3 linked regions of the Homo sapiens genome follow. The protein of the gene in region 1 purifies or fractionates together with the protein of each later gene. This does not show direct contact. Each region holds a gene or a part of one and is shown on either strand. Other genes may lie near its edges.

Region 1 (7,000 bases):
CCTGTAGTCCCAGCTACTCGGGAGGCTGAGGCAGGAGAGTGGCGTGAACCTGGGAGGCTCCCACGCCCGGCTAATTTTTGTATTTTTAGTAGAGACAGGGTTTCACCATATCGGCCAGGCTGATCTCGAACTCCTGACCTCATGATCTGCCAGCCTCAGTCTCCCAAAGTGCTGGGATTACAGGCGTGAGCCACCGTGCCCAGCCGGAAGTAATTTCTTTCCTGATGCTATTGTCCTCCAGTAGTGCATATTTCTTTCTTTCTTTTTCATTTATTTATTTATTTATTTGGTGAGACAGAGTCTCACTCTGTGGCCCAGGCTGGAGTGCAGTGGCGTGATCTTGGCTCACTGCAACCTCTGTTGCCCAGGTTCAAGCGATTCTCCTGCCTCAGCCTCCCGAGTAGCTGGGATTACAGGCGCCCACCACTGCGCCTGGTTAATTTTTGTAGTTTTAGTAAAGATGGTGTTTCACCATGTTGGCCAGGCTGGTCTTAAACTCCTGATCTCATGATCCACCCACCTTGGCCTCCCAAAGTGCTGGGATTACAGGCGTGACCCACCACGCCCGGCTGCATATTTCTTTTATGTCACTTTGTACACTAGACTGTCACTTCAAATATTTACTATAATTGGGTGCTTTAAATTTTGTTGATATTTTTCACTTCTAATGTTTTTCCCACTAGATTAGGAGTGCCATGAGTATCTTTATCATTATTACTTAGCATATTACTTTGTACTTGTAGGTATTTAACAAATATTTTAGAGTAACAATACAGTTAACTGTGGTACCCCACACAGATAAAAGTACTTACTAAAAACCCAGCAAATCTTGTCATTGTTTTTTATAGTTGAACGCATGAGGAATGGGATTGATATCCTGGTTGGAACACCAGGTCGTATCAAAGACCACATACAGAATGGCAAACTAGATCTCACCAAACTTAAGCATGTTGTCCTGGATGAAGTGGACCAGATGTTGGATATGGGATTTGCTGATCAAGTGGAAGAGATTTTAAGTGTGGCATACAAGAAAGGTAATCCACAAATTCAAGAAGCTGATAAAAAAGACCAAAGGAAGGGTGGTAACTCTGTCTCCTGGGTTCAAGTGACTCTCATGCCTCAGCCACCCTAGTAACTGGGATTACAGGCACCCACCACCACGCCTGGCCTCGTATTTTTAGTAGAGATGGGGTTTTGCCATATTGCCCAGGCTGGTCTCAAACTCCCAGCCCCAGGTGATCCGACTGCCTCACCCTCCCAAAGTGCTGGGATTAGAGGCATGAGCCACTGCGCCTGGCCTGGTGACTAAGTAGTTTTCTAAGAGATTAATAAAGCCTTGGGAAATTGGAATGGGGCTCATTTTATCTAGAAACTTGGATTAAAAAAAAAAAGTCATTACTCTGGGATTAAAGCTGGTGAGGAAAAAAAAAGTCATGATTTATCATATTACCACAATGGGGAAAACTTGGAAAAGTAAAGAAAAATACCATCTTCTGTCATCTTGATGTGGTCTGCTTTTGGTGTATTCCTGATGTTTTGCATTTTATTGTATATATGTGTTGATTATACTCTGACTATACATATAAAAATTCAGCAAAAATACTGTATGAAGTGGTTGGCCATGACTTAATTCTACCATCTGCCTAGTTTGATTTTTATTCAATATAAATAGTTCTGTTTAGCCACTTTTATACAGATAGCTTCTCACCTCAATATCTGGAATTGTTTTTTGTTTTTTTTTTTGAGACAGGGTCTAAATCTGTCACCCAGGCTGGAGTGCAGTGGTGGGATCTTGGCTCATTGCAGCCTCCACCTTCCAGGTTGAAGCAATCCTCCGAGTAGCTGGGACTATAGATGTGCGCCACCATGCCCAGCTAATTTTTCTGTTTTTTGTAGAGCTGGGTTTCACCATGCTGGTCTTGAACTCTTGGACTCAAGTGATCTTCCCTCCCACTTTGGCCTCCCAGAATGCTGGGATTACAGATGTGCTCTACCGCGGCCGCCCTTTTTTTATTTTTAAGATAGGCCCTCACCCTGTCACTCAGGCTATAGTACAGTGGCACCATCATAGCTCACTGCATCCCTAAACTCCTGGGCCTCAGCTTCCTGAGTAGCTTAGGGCTACAGGCGTGCGCCACCATGCCTGGCTAATGTTTTTATTATTGATAGAGACAGGGTCTCACTGTGTTGCCCAGGCTTGTCTTGATTCCTGGCCTCAAGTGATCCTCCTGCCTCCACCTCTGAAAGCATTGGAATTACAGGCATGAGCCACTGTGCCTGGCCTGGAATTGGTTCTTTAGGATAGATTTCCAGAAGTGGAATTACTGAGCTTAAAAGTGTAAAAAATTCATGCTCCTCAATATACATTGTCAAATTCTCTCCAGAAGGGTTCTATCACACTTCTATTTGGAATGTTTGAGAATGTGATGTCACTCTTAAGTAGAATTGAACAAACAAAAATAGTAGCTGGACTCAATGATTGGACAAGAATTCTAAATTCATAAAATATTGAGAATAGAAATCTTAGAATAGATTTCGTTTGTAATTCAAAAGCCTAATGGTCAGAAAGCAAAATAACTTTAAAGTACTTTCACTATTTTAAGGATCTTTTAGATAAATTACCTAGCGGTATTTCTTTGCCCATTGGGAAACCTCTGTCTTCCAGTTTTGTGTCCTCAGTGCCCGACTTGGCCTCAGGTGGTTGCTGGTGAACATTGATGGACTGTGGAAGTATTAGGTTAGGTGGAATACTATGTAGGCTTGTTTGGATTATTCATACTGACTTTTTTTTTCCCCCTCCTCAAAGATTCTGAAGACAATCCCCAAACATTGCTTTTTTCTGCAACTTGCCCTCATTGGGTATTTAATGTTGCCAAGAAATACATGAAATCTACATATGAACAGGTGGACCTGATTGGTAAAAAGACTCAGAAAACGGCAATAACTGTGGAGGTAAATTATTTACTTAGTTGCCAGAATATAAAATTGTATATATTTTTTTCTTGTCTGTTAGTATTAAGACTGGCAAATGCTCTTTTTCCAGATAAATACTAAATCCATGTGAAAAGCCAAGGAAAAATATTTCTATTTGAGCTGTATATGATATCTGTGTTTTTATTTTTATTTTTTGAGATGGAGTCTCGCTCTGTCACCAGGCTGGAGTGCAGTGGCGCAATCTCCGTTCACTGCAACCTCCACCTCCCAGGTTCAAGTGATTCTCCTGCCTCAGCCTCCTGAGTGGCTGGGACTACAGGCATGCGCTACCACGCCCAGCTAATTTTTGTATTTTTAGTAGAGACAGGGTTTCACCATGTTGGCCAGGATAGTCTCAATCTCTTGACCTCGTGATCTGCCCATCTCGGCCTCCCAAAGTGCTGGGATTACAGGTGTGAGCCACCACGCCCGGCCCGATATCTGTGTTTTTAAAATTTCATCATCTATGGCCTCATTTCATTTCAGAATGATTTGGAACTTAAATCTATCTGAGTTATGTAAACATAAATCACACTTAAAATTTAAACATTAGAGGGCAGCAGAGAAATCTAGTGCTTTGTGTTTAAGCTTAAAAGTGTTGAAGTTTAAAATTTCACCTTTGATTCTGATAATCTAGATGAATTAATTTCACTGAGGAACAGACCTGTATATTAATCTACTACAGATTGGGTTTTTAAGTAAATGAAAAGGCAAAACATACAGAAATTTGTTGGTTATTTGGTTTCCTGTAGAAAGCTAGGGAGTGGCATTTCCTTTCCTGCATTTTCCTGGTTGTCAGAAAATAAAGAAGTTAGATGCTCTTTAGAGAAAGGGGAGAGGCATGGGGAGATGGGCAGATCATGTTGCTTTCTGCTTTACTGGCTTATTTAGGTTTTTTTCTGTCAGTGGTGGCTGCAGACAGCTCTTATCAGGCTTGAGTAGTTGTTTCCAGGAGCAAGACATTAGAACATTAGTGTTGTGCTCACTGATCATTGTGTTGTGATTTTAGTTTCCAGCAAAGCTTTACTAAATAGATGTTTTTTTTCTTCTTACATAAGCATCTGGCTATTAAGTGCCACTGGACTCAGAGGGCAGCAGTTATTGGGGATGTCATCCGAGTATATAGTGGTCATCAAGGACGCACTATCATCTTTTGTGAAACCAAGAAAGAAGCCCAGGAGCTGTCCCAGAATTCAGCTATAAAGCAGGTTGGTCCTTCCCCTTATGCCAGCAAAACTGGGGATATCAACAAATCTTCACCTTGGGCATATCTGCTCTTGGTCTGATTTTCATTCATTCAGTGAATACCAGTTTAGTTTAGTTTAGAAATGAGAGGAAGCTACTTTTTTTTTTTTTTTTTTAATTGAGGCAGAGTCTCATTCTGTTACCCAGGCTGGAGTGCAGTGGTGTGATCTGGGCTCTCTGCCTCCTGAGTTCAAGTGATTCTCCCACCTCAGTCTCCCGAGTAGCTGGGATTACAAGTGAGCACCACCATTCCTGGTTAATTTTGTTTTTTCTTTATTTTTTTGAGAGGGGGTCTCGCTTCTTCGCCCAGGCTGGACTGCAATGGTGTGATCTTGGCTCACTGAAACCTCCGCTTCTTGGGTTCAAGCAGTTCTCCTGCCTCAGCCTCCCAAGTAGCTGCGATTACAGGCACGTGCCAGCATGCCCAGCTAATTTTTGTATTTTTAGTAGAGATGGGGTTTCACCGTGTTGGCCGGGTTGGTCTCGAACTCCTGACCTCAAGTGATCCACCTGCCTCGGCCACTCAGAATGCTGGGATTATAGGCATGAGCCACTGCGCCCAGCCTAATTTTTTTTTTTTTTTTTTTTTTTTTTTTGGAGACAGGGTCTCACTCCCTTTGCCCAGGCTGAAGTGAAGTGCATTGGCGTGGTCTCGGATCACTGTAGCCTCAACCTCCAGGTAGCATGCACCACCATACCTGGCTTTTTTTTTCTGGATGGTGTTTTATTATTGATATAATTCATGTGCCACATATTATCATTTTAAAGTGTACAGTTCAGTGGCTTTTAGCATAATCATGAGGTTGTGCCACAGTCACCACTATCTAATTGGGAAGACTTTTTTTATCTTCAACTTTTAGGTTCAGGGGTACATGTGAGGATGTACAGGTTTGTTACATAGCTAAATGTATGCCAAGGTGGTTTGCTGCACAGATCATCCCATAACCTAGGTATTAAGCCCAGCATTTATTAGCAGGATTAGCTATTCTCCTACCCACCCCCAACTAATTTTATTTTTTTAAATTTTTTTTCTATTTTTAGTAGAGACCGAGTCTTGCCATATTGCCCAGGCTGGTCTCAAACCCCAGCCTCAAGCAGTCTGCCTGTCTGGGCCTCCCAAAGTGCATGAGCTACTGCACCTGGCCTCACTTCTTTCTAATGATCAGAGGGTACATGTTAGAACTCACTTAATCTGTCATGGCATCTCATCACACAAATGAGGAAAGGGTGGCTCAGACCTAAGGTTACACTGATAAAATAGGTTTGATCACTCTTGTCTCATTCTCAACTTCAATAAGTAAAGTTGGATACAGTTGGAATTGATAACTGAGGATTTGGAAATAATATTGAGGCTTATCCATTCAAGACACATTTTCCCCTTTGTAATGTTTTCAACAGGCATGTCACCAAAATATGAATGTCTTTTACAGGCCTAACTGATGAAGAGAAAAAGTACTTGTATTGTTGGAACTGGTGTTCTTACATCCGTTTATTTATTGGCAGGATGCTCAGTCCTTGCATGGAGACATTCCACAGAAGCAAAGGGAAATCACCCTGAAAGGTTTTAGAAATGGTAGTTTTGGAGTTTTGGTGGCAACCAATGTTGCTGCACGTGGGTTAGACATCCCTGAGGTTGATTTGGTTATACAAAGCTCTCCACCAAAGGTATGTGCTTTATGCTTAGATTTTATTTTGTTTTGTTTTTTTTGGGTATTAAAACAAATTGGAAATTGTATTATTTACTTTCATGTCATTAGTATATAGCTATCTTTTGAGTGCTGGGATGCTAAGGGTGATTTTGAGAATGAACCTGTTATCAGACACCCCCCTCAGAACTGACACTTGAGTAGAAGTGCAGTCAGCAGACAGAGGTTCAAAAGGTGACTTGGGGATATAGTGTGATTTTTGAGCCAAACCTTGAAGATGGGTGGAAGGACTGAGATGGGATAGGGGTAAGTAAGGTAGATAAATGCATGAGCCTAGAGGACAGGGGAGAGAAAGGGCCTGTAATTAACCTCTGTGGTTAGAGATGCTTAGGTTTGTGAGTTATAGGAACCTCTCAAGGAGGACCCTGAATCATAGTTTACTTGATGTGGATAGTTCTTCACGTAAATAAAGGTTGTTCCAAAGGTATTCCAATCACTTCCAACATGAGGACCCCAAAATCTCACCCAAATTGGCAAATCCCCCATGGTTAAAGGCTGCTTACAACAATGGGGAAAAATAACTGAAGACTATGAATTCACCAATTCTTAAAAAGGAAGTCCCATGAGTGTGTGGTATAAACATTGTTTCACGAGCCTTTAGACTTTTTGATATGGTAGCCACTAGCTGTGTTGAGCACTTGAAATGTAGGTGGTCTGAATTGATCTGTGTACTGCAAGTGTAAAATACATACTGCCTAACTTTTTATTATGCGGTCTGGATTTTGAAGACTTACGAAAAAATACAAAATATTGCATTGGTACCCTGGTTTGTATAGATAGTATATTGAAATGATAAGACTTGGATATTCTGACAGGCGTGGTGGCTCATGTCTGTAATCCCAGCACCTTGGGCGGCTGAGGCAAACGAATCACTTAAGGTCAGGAGTTCGAGACCAGCCTGGCCAATATGGTGAAACTCTGTGAAACCCTGTCTATACTAAAAATACAAAAATTAGCCAGGCCTGGTGTCAGGTGCCTGTTGTCCCAGCTACTTGGGAGGCTGAGACAGCAAGATCACTTGAACCCGGTAGGCGGAGGTTGCAGTGAGCTGAGATCATGCCACTGCACTCCAGCCT
Region 2 (5,366 bases), on another chromosome or scaffold:
CCTCCACCTCCCAGGTTCCAGGGGATTCTCCTGCCTCAGCCTCCCGAGTAGCTGGGATTACAGGCACACGCCACCACACCTGGCTAATTTTTGTATTTGTAGTAGAGATGGGTTTTGCCATGTTGGCCCAGGCTGGTCTCAGACTCCTGACCTCGGGTGATCTGCCCGCCTCAGCCTCCCAAAGCACTGGGATTATAGGTGTGAGCCATTGCACCCGGCCTCTTTCTTGGTTCTTAATACCAAATCGGAAGCAACCCTAGACCTTTCTTCCACTAATCTGTCACCAAGGCCTTCAGATTCCTGCATGTCCCCACCCTCAGCTTCGTTCTCCCGACTCACCCTGCCCCCCGCTCCTGCCAGGCCCACTATGTATAAATACATTAACCCTCTCCTTCTCTGTTCTTCTAGAGATCAGTGGTTTTGTGGTAATCACTGCCTCTGAGTACTTGATCTCACATCAGATGACAGGGCCCAAGGTGGATTGTGTAAGATACAGAACAAAAATGTAAAAACCAGAAAACAAACATAAAAGCATCACATTTCAAATAGGACATAAAGGTCCCTAGATTTTTAATCAAAATATTTTACAATTTTTGCTCTGCTAGCATGAGATCAACAAGAAAACCCAACAGGAATACATAAAAAACTTAACAAGTTGACTTTAATAAGTAAAAATTACAACATTCTTCTCCCAGCAATGAACAATTTCATTTTTTAAAAGTAAACGAGGCCTAAAACAAGAGGGCACAGGAACAAGTAGTCAGATGGATTTAGGTGAGCACTGTACACAAGCTTTGAGGAAGTGCAAAGGACTGACCTCTAGGCCAGAACAAGATGGAAAACTACCAGGCCCATCAGGCCTATAACCCAGACACCAGCATGGACAAAACTCAGTTATACTGAATTCAGAGACAAAATTCAGTGACACTCTTCTACCACTTATTTAGGGTTCTACAGCATTTCACTGAGCAGACTTAGTTTTTTGTTTTTGTTTTACAAACCTTTTAAACAGAGGGGATTTAAAAAATGCAAACTAGGACTACGATGTTAAGACAACCACTAGCAGACAGCTGCGGACAGTTACTGGGTCTGAAGGTGAGGCTTCCCAACTCAAACAGAGAAGTCATTGGGATAAACTCTGCCTCTTTCATCTTTCACCACCCATATCCTTAAAACAGGACAAGATGGGATGACCACACCAGGTAACATCACCGAGGTCTCAAAGTAGCAGCTAAAATGTGCCAGAACTCTTCACCCTGTCTAGGACCTATGTTCCACTCTCTCAGCAACAAAAGGATCTATAACATGTTTTCTCAATAAGGCTTTAGTTTCTCCTCCAGCTTCAAGTGGCCTTCACTACTCAGAAACCAATTCTACCTCTTTTGCTTTCTTCTTCTTCTTCTTCTTCTTGGTGGTATCACTGTCCTAGAAAGAAAGAGAATGAAAGCTCACAGATACCATCCACTAACAAAGCTATGACTCTCCCAGAAGGAAATCTGGTAAAGGTCCACAGTCAAGCAAGCCTTTTTCAGGACCTGTAAGGATATTTTGGGTTAAATGCTGCATGTGACACAAAGTTCTGTAAACCTTTCAGTGACACCCTAGTGGTCTACTTTTGGAAGTGGAAACATTCAGATCACCATCCTACACATCCTCTCCACCCACCATCAATAGAGCTCTAAGTATAAGTGGTAGAGGTCGGGTGCCTCTATCTGTCCATTCCACAGGGAGGGCAAAAGCACTCCAGGAACATGGGGAAGCACTAAAGGCACTCGGTGGCATCCCACCCCCAGGCCACAGCTCCTCCAAGAAGAGTAACAAAGCTGGTACCACCTGGGTAATTCTTTCCCCACGCAGGGACTAAGCCAGCCCAAGGAACCTGAACGTGTTTCCACACACCCCATCTCCAGGCTCGGCCCCGCTCTCCAGACCAGCTTTGGCCTTCTTGTCCTTCTTACTCTTCTTCTTTTCCTTCTTGATCAACTGAGGAGCTGCTGGAGGAGTCTCGTCACTTTCACTCTCACTCTCTCGCTTCCGCTGAGATGAAAGCAATTGGTTAAGTGTTAGATCTTGGGCAATAATGGACAAGAAAGGTTCAGTGAGTCAAAAGGTAGCAAGGCACCAAGAAAGATCCCAACTGAATCTAACAGGACGTTTTCTGACTACAAACCCGGACAGGGCCTTAGTTTACTGAGGATTTGAAGACAGTCTCATCCCCCAAATCCAAGAAGCCTTGAGGCAGGCACAAGAGAAGGAGCACAGCAGCAGCACGGGGCTTGGGGTGGAAAGGCCCGGAGGAGCTGTTTCTCTCATGACTGCAAGGACCTCTCACAGAAAGCAGGCAAAGCAGGAATTCACATCTGACAAGTCAGAAGCTCCTCCCACACAGCCTGTGCAGGATACTCAGTACCGCCCCCGGTTTCTGAGTGCAGACCTGTCATTCTGTGCTCTAATGCCAGCAGCTCCATGGGGTGGAGTTGCCAACCCATGCTTGACTGACTCTTTCAACACTGGGTGGTGCCAGGTTAAGATGCAATTCTGCTCTCTGCTGAATTTTGTATGGCCTCGAATGTCCAACAGCCATGGCCTCTGATTTCAACACATCTGTCCTACCATTTGACCCAGGGCGGGGGCCAGAATTGACACACACACCACCACCCATTCCATCACTGTGTTGCTGCCATAGCTGAGGTAGGAGTCGAGGCCCATCTGATTCCTGAGCCCACATTCCTCCTCCCAGCAGATAGGACAGAGAATACAAATCAGAGGAGCCTGCAGAGCCCAAACAAGCACCCCAGGGTATGAGGCAGCATTACCTGTGTATGCGCTGCACCTCTGATGCTAGCGTATATGGCTGGACTGCGGACAGTCACAAAGTAAGACGAATGCCAGTGCCTCTTAGGATTATCTCCCTAAGCACATTCCAAACTGAGGACAGCATGCCACTCACCTTCGCAGTTTTTGCTGCTTCGGCAACTACCTGCGGGGCTTTTACCACTTCAGCAACCACCTCTTTTTTGGCAGACTCACTGAAAAAGAGGTAGCAATAGGTCAAATTCACTGAATGGCTTTCCAGGGCAGTACTGATGTTATGTAGTGTTATCTGGCAAGTCTAAAGCCACCATCAAAATACTGACGCTGGACAGAAGAACTCACCACTTACTGTTGCAGACTGACTCCCTCTAGAGTCCCACGAGCCAGACTAGAAAGGGATAACTGTCTGCCGTGCAGGCCCACACCCCTAACTGGCCTGGGCAGCCAAAATCTCACGGGAGCTGAAGAGCTGGTTCCTGTGGTCCTGCATTTAGCAAGTTTGCCCCAAACCAAGTGACTCCCCCTCCCCTGGGCTCTACAACCTCCATGCTCACCTGTTCCTCACCTGTTGTCCATGTACTCCTGCGTCCAGATGGCAAGTGGGCTCTACCTTCCCATCCTCACCTGTTGTTGACATACTCCTGCATCAAGGCAGCAAGTGTGCCGTCTCTACCCACCCCGGCTCTGAAACATCCTGCCCTCACCTGTAGTCAACATACTCCTGCTTCCAGGTGGCAGGTGTGCTGTCTGTGGGCTTCCCATGCTTGTCCAGAAGGCCCTGCTTGATCATCAGCTTCTTCTGACTTGCCTGGTGGAACATCAAGGTGTCAACATTAGAATGGTGTCAATGCTGGAAGCGGGCATGGTGACTACAAAGAATAGAACAAGGTTCCTCCCTGGTGTATTCTCAGCAGGGCCTCAAACTCCTCTCCAGAGCATTCAGAATTTGCCCACTAACTCCAACACACACAGGACTTGTTGAAGATCACAAAGCTTATTAGTGAGAGCCTCTGCAGACATAACGTCCCCACCGCAGCCACTCTACTTTTTTGCCTTTGCACATGCTGCTTGCTCCCAATGCCCTGAACTCTCCCCTCCCCTCTTCACTTCACCAACACCTAACCCACTCTTCACACCGGTGTGGCTTAACAGACAATCCCTTGACCAGACTCCTTGACCACTGTGGACACTCCAGGTGACAGACACCTCTCTGCACTCCTTGGTAGCCACTAACGTGCATGAAATTCGCCATTCCACTGTGTGATTACGTGAGTAATGCCCAACTGTTTCCCCTCATTAGACTGAAATCTCTAAGGCCCAAGACAGGGCCTGTTTCCACTCATCGACAACCCAGAGCCCAGCACAATACAAGGCTGTGGTGGTGAAACACACCAAGAGCTGCCCAAGTATTCAACAATGCCAAACAAAAGAACCTGGCAGGAGCCGCCCCATCCGGGAGGGAGGTGGGGGGGGGTCAGCCCCCCCGCCCGGCCAGCCGCCCCGTCCGGGAGGTGAGGGGCGCCTCTGCCCGGCCGCCCCTACTGGGAAGTGAGGAGCCCCTCTGCCCGGCCGCCACCCCGTCTGGGAGGTGTGCCCAACAGCTCATTGAGAACGGGCCAGGATGGCAATGGCGGTTTTGTGGAATAGAAAGGCGGGAAAGGTGGGGAAAAGATTGAGAAATCGGATGGTTGCCGTGTCTGTGTGGAGAGAAGTAGACATGGGAGACTTTTCATTTTGTTCTGCACTAAGAAAAACTCTTCTGCCTTGGGATCCTGTTGATCTGTGACCTTACCCCCAACCCTGTGCTCTCTGAAACATGTGCTGTGTCCACTCAGGGTTAAATGGATTAAGGGCGGTGCAAGATGTGCTTTGTTAAACAGATGCTTGAAGGCAGCATGCTCCTTAAGAGTCATCACCACTCCCTAATCTCAAGTAATCAGGGACACAGACACTGCGGAAGGCCGCAGGGTCCTCTGCCTAGGAAAACCAGAGACCTTTGTTCACTTGTTTATCTGCTGACCTTCCCTCCACTATTGTCCCATGACCCTGCCAAATCCCCCTCTGTGAGAAACACCCAAGAATTATCAATAAAAAAATAAATTTAAAAAAAAAAAAAAAAAAAAAAGAACCTGGCAGGGCACGCAACCCAGTACCACTTACCTTTGGACCTAAACCCCACTTCCGAGGGTAAGTGTCTCTCTCCATGATCACTCTCTTGATCTTGGCTACTATACCATGGTCGCAGGTAGAGATGACCGCTGTGGTCATTAATGCAATAGCTACAGGCATTGAATAAAGAAAAGAATTATTTGAAGGGTGAAAGAATTGATAATTGATGAGCCCCAATTCTACTGTTGTATGCCACTTTAAAACTTTTAAAACTCTGAGCTACTACTTTAATTGGGGTTACCTTTGCTCAGGATGTGCATATGGAGGAAATACTCCATTATGAGAAGGAGGCCTTTGAAATGACGTTAAACTTCTGAAGTTAAAAAACACCTAACCAAAGCACCTAACGATACACATAACAGGCTTGCAGCTCAAGACGTCTA
Region 3 (7,040 bases), on another chromosome or scaffold:
TGTATCTGGTTTTTACTTCCTGGGTTGACTATTTTTATTTTCTTTTAAACCTAAAAATGTTATCTCCTGCATGTGTTCTGAGATCCTACCTGCTATTATTACTGCTTGGAAAGAGGTTGAATTCTACTATATAAATATAACCCCTTTCCATTTTTTTTTTTTTTTTAGTATAAATTGAGTCTCTGGAGAGACCCCAAATTCAGTCTCTTTGGTGAGACCTTCTGTTCACATCTCATTAAAGCAAAGCTATGAGCTGGATTTCAGAAATAATTACGACAGCTGCATCTTTTGCCCGTGTAGCCCTTGGGAGCCACACTTTGTGGCAATGTGTGCTGGTGTTTCATAGAAAACAACACGGAAAACCGAATGCAGCCGAGGGGAGGGGCGCCTCCTCTCAACTTCTTTTTCTTTTCTCTCCGCTTTGCCCACAACTTAGCAGGAATGTGAGTGAAAACTTTCACCGCTGAAAATGGCTTAGCCAGACAATGCTCTACAGTATGAAGTGAAAAACAATGTTTTGTAAGTTTTACAAGTCTCTACAGTCAGGACAATGCACAAATATTTCCAACAAAGCAATGAAATGCAAAATCAGTGACCAATTAGTAGGTTAAAACTTTCACAGAAATATTACAGGAGATGTATATGGCCATATATACTGGTTTTCATTTCTTTACATTTAATTGTATTATTAATAATTGTGTAAGATGTAGATACTATTGTCGACTTTTTAAAACATTATTATCTATGTCTTATCTTTTGTACAGTTACAATTAAAAGTGTAAGAATACTGACAGGGGATTTACTCACTTTTCAAGAGAACCTTTTTCGATATTCATTGCTCCATCGATTGGATCCAGTCCTTGTTCAGAAAATTGTTTCAAGGCACTTAAGGCTGCCTAAAAATGAAAACAAACAGAGAGAGCCATTCACTGACTCTAGTGTAATGAACAAGTAACTGAAAGAAAGCTGAGATAGAAAGACTCATTTTCATTAGTCTACATAATTTTTTTTTGCATTGTTTAACAAAAGTACACTAGAAAGTCTGCATGATCAGGCAGCAGTGTATATACATAACCGGAACTAGAAGGGCTTTAAGTCTCCTGCCTTATCCCTTCTCCACAGTTTTGCAAAATTGTGATGTTTTATCTGCAAACATGGCAACACCTCATATAAGCTTAAAATACTTCCATGGTGACATTGCATAATTTCTCACGTTACTGAAACTACACATTCTCTTCTCTCAGGTGTGACATCCAAATTTTCCACCTTGAGTATTCTTTCCAAAGTAAGCATAAAGGTATTGTTCAAATTGATAGACACTTAGCCCCAGTCAAGGTACAGAATGTCAGCAGAGGAATGGACAGTAGGTCCTCATGCAGACTGAGGGGATGGATGGTAAGATGGGATCCTGAGAGGATGAGGAAAGAGAGAAAGTTTGGGCTGGTCATGTTCTGGGGAGGCAGGCCTGCCGGGCAGAGCCTCCCGAGGTGTTGATAGGCTCGGGGTGCGTGGGAAGCCGCAGGGTGTGAACAGGCTGGTGGAGCCTTGCTGTATAGCTGGGAGGCACCAAAAATGCCATGCTGATAAGATCTACATAACTTGTTGACACTCTTGTGCATGTTCCAAACTGTTATTTCTTTGAGTAAGAATTTGGGTCTTCCTCCCCTCCCCCAAGCCCGACACTGCTGAGTGAGATTGGAAGGGCTCTGCTGAGTCTGAGATGGGCATGAGCAGGCAGGGCTGTTTTCATCCTGGGGCATCCCGCTGGGTCACACTTGGGGCATCTGTGTCTTCTCAGCTGCCTTTGAAAACGAGCTAGCTCTTGGCGGTTTCCCAAACTTTTATCTGCCAAGAGCTCCTTTAGGGTAGCTGACTAAGTGCATGATTTCCTTTAAGTTTCTTTATTCAGAATATATTTTGGAGGTGTGATTCTTTTTTAGTTAATAGTCTTGTGAGGTTTACAGAAAACTTGGGCAGGTAGTACACAGAGTTCCCATATTCTTCCCTCCCCTAAATACGGTTTCCCCAATCATTAACATCTTGCATTGGTATGGTACATTTGTTATAGCTGATGAACAAATATTGATAGCTTATCATTAACTGAAGTCCATGGTTTACATAAGGGTTCACTCTGTGTGGTACATTCTGTGGGTTTCAACAAATGCCTAATGGCATTTATCCACCATTAGAGTATCATATAAAATAGTTCCACAGCCCTACAAATCCTCTGTGCCCCACCTATTCACCTCCCCCCACCCCCACCAGCCCCCTGGCAACCACCAATCTTTTTACCATCGCTACAGTTTTGCCATATAGCAGTTGGGATCATACAATATGTCACCTTTTCAGATTGGCTTTTTCACTTAGCAATGTATATTTGAAGCTCCTCTATGTCTTTTTTTTTTTTTTTTTTTGACTGAGTCTTACTCTGTCGCCCAGGCTGGAGTGCAGTGGCACGATCTGGGCTCACTGCAACCTCTGCCTCCTGGGTTCAAGTGATTCTACTGCCTCAGCCTCCCAAGTAGCTGGGACTGCAGGCCTGCACCACCACACCCAGCTAATTTTTGTATTTTTAGTAGAGACGGGGTTTCACCATGTTGGCCAGGCTGGTCTCGAACTCCTGACCTCGGGTGATCCACCCACCTTGGCCTCCCAAACTGCTGGGATTACAGGTGTGAGCCACTGCACCCGGCCCCTCTTTTTGTGAACGATATGGCTTTTCATAAATGAGCTTCGTAGCTCCTTTTTATTGCTGAATAATGTCCCATCGCATGGATGCACCACAGTTTGTCCGTTCACTTATTGAAGGACATCTTGATTGTTTCCAGTTTTTGGCAACTATGAATAAAACTGCTATAAACATCCATATGTGGAATTTAATGTGTAATATTCATAATACTTTTTTCTTTCTTCTCTCTTGCTTTTCTATTGTTGCTTTTTAATCACAAATCCTATATCCAAGCAAAAGTCGGCATGCGTCCTTTCTTTTTCTTTAGATTACTCCTTCCTTTCAAATCTTTAAATCAGGCTTCCTAGATCAGAGGTGCTAATGTGAGTGCCCATGCAGATCTGCAGCCCTGGCCCGGGCATCCCGAAGCAGGGAGGATGTGGTGCTCAAGTCTCAGTTATCATCATAATCTCTTTGGACCTGGAGTGCTGCAGGGAGAAGGTCAGTGATGCCACCCCATAGCTCCTGATCCTGGCCCATGCTCATGCTGGACAACAGCCAGGTGGGTTTTGATGGGAGGTAGGCGCTAACTTCAGTGGGGTGGGAGCTGTGTGGCCATCTCCCTGGATACTGTTATAGGTCGAATTGTGCTCTTCCCCCAAATTCATATGTTGAAGTCCTAACCCCCAGTATCTCAGAATGGGGCCTTATAGAATGTGGCCTTATTTAAAAATAGGATTAGTACAGATGTAATTAGTTAAGATGAGGTCATACTGGAGTAGGGTAGGTCCCTGATCCAATATAACTGGTATCCTTATAAAAAGAGGAAACTGGAACACAGACCCACACAGGGAGAACGCCACGTGAAGATGGTGGTAGGGGCTGGAGTGATGCCGCAGCAGCCAAGGAACACCAAAGATTGCCAGCAAAGCACTCGAAGTGAGGAGAGGGGCCTGGGACAGATTCTCCCTCACAGCCTTCAGAAGGAACCAGCCCTGCCAGCACCTTGATCTTGAACTTCTAGCCTCCAGAACTGTGAGACAATACACTCCTGTTGATGAAGCCACTCAGTTGGTAGTACTTTACTACAGCAGCTCCAGCAAACTGTACAGGGACCTCATAGCTTCTCTTTAAGGATAGCAAAATCTCTCTCTCTCTCTCTCTTCTCTCTCTCTCCCTGTATTATTTTTTGTTATAAAAATAGTTTTTTGTTACAGAAAAGTCAGAATATATAGACAAGCAAAAAGAATGTAAAAAGTATCCACAATCCTGCTCACCATTCACATCTTGGCGCACGTCTTTCCATATCACTTGTTTTTTTTCTCTCTTTTTTTTTGAGATGGAGTCTTACTCTGTCACCCAGGCTGGAGTGCAGTGGTGTGATCTTGACTCACTGCAACCTCCACTTCCTGGGTTCAAGCAATTCTTGCACCTCAGCCTCCTGAGTAGTTGGGATTACAGGCATGAGCCACCACACCCAGCTAATGTTTGTACTTTTAGTAGAGACAGGGTTGCACCATGTTGGCCAGGCTGGTCTTGAACTCCTAGCCTCAAGTGATCCACCTGCCCCAGCCTCCCAAAGTATTGGGATTACAGGCATGCGCCTCTGCCCCCAGCCTCCATATCACTTAGTATCCTCTCCCCATGTCTACAAACTGTAGCCTGGATCATGTCTTAACACTGTAGGTAACCTGCTTTTTTTTTTTTCAATGATAAATAATAATTGTACACATTCATGGGGTGGGTAACAATGTTGCAATACACATAATGCATAGTGATCAGATCAAGGTAATTAGTACATCAATCATCTCAAACATTTATCATTTCTTTTTGTTGGGTTCATACAATATTCTCCTTCTAGCTGCTTGAAACTATAGAACATATTACTGTTAACTATAGTCTTTCTACAGTGGTATAGAGCAATAGAACTTATTCCTCATATCTAGCTATAATTTTGTATCCTTTAATAAATTTCTCCCTATCCCTCTCTTCCCCCTACCCTTCCCAACCTCTAATATCCTCTGTTCTACTTTTTACTTCTGTAAGATCAACCTTTTTAGCTTCCACACATGAGCAAGAACAAGTGGTGTTTAACTTTCTGTGCCCTGCTCATTTCACTTCACATTCGCCCAGTTTCATCCACATGGCCATAAATGACAGGATTTCATTCTTTTTTTACGGCCGAGTAGTATTCCATTGTATACATATACCATGGTTTTTTGTCCGTTCATCTGTTGTGTGCTCTTTTCATTGAATGTGTGCAGTATCAACAGAAACATTTCGGTAGCATCATTTCTCATGACTGCACAGTATCCTATCGATATCCTGTGTGATACCAACACTGCATCAAATTTCCTATTGGTTCAATCTTTATGCATCATCTCAATACTTTCCTTATGATAAATTCCTAAAATTGCATTTCTGAGCCAAAGATGATGTCCATTTTTAAAGATTTTTTTTTTTTTTTTTTTGAGACAGAGTTTTGCTCTTGTTGCCCAGGCTGGAGTGCAATGGCGTGAACTCGGCCCACCACAACCTCTGCCTCCCGGGTTCAAGCGATTCTCCTGCCTCAGCCTCCCGAGTAGCTGGGATTACAGGCATGCACCACCACGCCAGATTACTTTTGTGTTTTTAGTAGAGATGGGGTTTCTCCATGTTGGTCAGGCTGGTCTCGAACTCCCGACCTCAGGTGACCCGCCTGCCTCAGCCTCCCAAAGTGCTAGGATTACATGCGTGAGCCACTGTGCCCAGCCTTAAAGATGTTAATATGAGCTCTCTATCCACCCTTGGAGAGGTTGTGCCGGCAGCAGCAGTGGGAGGAGGGTGTTACTCTAGGTGCTTCTGGAATTACCTCTCAGAACCATTTTGTGGGTCAGAGAAGCAAACCAGTTTTGTCATCTTTTGGCCCCACCTTATTTTAATGTGTTCATCCTGGTTGTTGACCTTCTTCACTAGACTTGGCTTTGTCTGAAGTTTTGCTGTTTTCAAAAATTAAACTCACCCTCAAAAGACTGAGGTTTGGACAGTTCTCCCCACCCTCCCTGCAAGAAAGGAATTCACAGAGGAATTTGACTCTCAGGGAGCTTTGATTCAGTGACTCTGAGGTCCTTTTAAGTCCTGAAGTGCTAAGGCGGCTATGCTGAGGGCAGTGCATGTGCCCACAGCCTGTGTCCATCAACCGGGGCCCACTGTCCCACCTCACACATGCGCGTGGGGCGCTAAAGGCCAGGCTCACTCACTTGTAGGCTCCAAGGACCAATCCATGCCAGACCTTTTTCCAGATATTCCCATTTTCACGGAGTGGGCTCATGAACTTCAAGTTCTTTGTATATTCAACAGTTTTAACAAAAGACCAGTTACTTTTCTTCTGAGCCATTAAAATGTGAATTATTGGCATAAATTCTGAAATTTATGAATTTCTTCCAAAGTGGACAATTACATTTGAAATTTTATTATTTTTTGTAACATAATGATAAATTATTTAACATTTTCTGTGATGACAACACCTGAAATATACTCTCAGAGCAATATCAAAATGTGCAGTACTCAACTGTTAGCTATATTCACCACACTGTGCAGTAGATGTCCAAAAAAATCAAACTTATCCTTTTTATCTGACTGAGACTTTGTACCCTTTGACTATCATTTTCCCATTCCACCTACCCCCAGCCTCTGTACCCACCACTGTACTCTCTGCTTCTGGGAGTTCAATTGTTTTATATCTCACATATAAATGAGAACATGTGGGATTTGTCTATGTTTGGCATATTTCACTTAGCATAATGTTCTCCAATTCTATCCATGTTGTTGCAAATGACATAATTTCTTCCTTTTTAAAAGCTGAACATATTCCATTGTGTCTATATACCACATTTTCTTTTTCCATTCATCCATTAATGGACATTTAGGTTGATCCCACATCTTTGCTATTGTGAATACTGTTGCAATAAACATGAGGGTGCAGATATCTCTTGACACACAAATTTCAAACTTTTTAGGTAAATACCCAGATGTGACAGTGCTGGATCCCAAAAGCACCATCACAGAGGGCTACTGAGAGCCAGGAAATGGAACTGTGCAATGTGATACTGCTGAATGGGGTTCCTACGAGCTCTAGGGCTTCTCGGTCCTGTTTTATTCCTAGCAAGGGCAAAACAACAACTAAAAACAATTTTTAAAAATCTTTTAAAAAATCGTTTTTAGGCTACTTATAGCCTGTTTTCACTAGGTACACTGGGAATACTTGGTTCTTAGTGTGGCCTGAACACCAGAACCAAATGACCTGCTTCACCCAGTCCAGGACCCATGGCACCTGCTCTCTTCCATCTGAAGAGAACTGCATATATGAGACGAAGGCCAGGTCTCAGGGAGC

The links. The genes of interacting proteins can lie anywhere in the genome.
Region 2: the proteins of DDX21 (region 1) and DKC1 purify together in Homo sapiens (co-immunoprecipitation; 3 studies listed by BioGRID and IntAct, with this or other methods). This does not show direct contact.
Region 3: the proteins of DDX21 (region 1) and STAU2 purify together in Homo sapiens (affinity purification with mass spectrometry; 2 studies listed by BioGRID and IntAct, with this or other methods). This does not show direct contact.

Annotation. Positions count from the first base shown.
Region 1 is NC_000010.11:68,966,170-68,973,169, forward strand, and holds part of DDX21 (nucleolar RNA helicase 2), read left to right. Parts: intron 1-848; coding exon 849-1,034; intron 1,035-2,806; coding exon 2,807-2,952; intron 2,953-4,031; coding exon 4,032-4,181; intron 4,182-5,721; coding exon 5,722-5,883; intron 5,884-7,000.
Region 2 is NC_000023.11:154,772,858-154,778,223, reverse strand, and holds the end of DKC1 (H/ACA ribonucleoprotein complex subunit DKC1), read right to left. Parts: intron 5,094-5,366; coding exon 4,975-5,093; intron 3,623-4,974; coding exon 3,519-3,622; coding exon of another isoform or gene 3,515-3,518; exon of another isoform or gene 3,030-3,514; coding exon 2,951-3,029; intron 2,038-2,950; coding exon 1,900-2,037; intron 1,426-1,899; coding exon 1,357-1,425; 3' UTR 535-1,356; downstream 1-534.
Region 3 is NC_000008.11:73,421,807-73,428,846, forward strand, and holds part of STAU2 (double-stranded RNA-binding protein Staufen homolog 2), read right to left. Parts: intron 897-7,040; coding exon 808-896; intron 1-807. UniProt on the Homo sapiens protein: RNA-binding protein required for the microtubule-dependent transport of neuronal RNA from the cell body to the dendrite.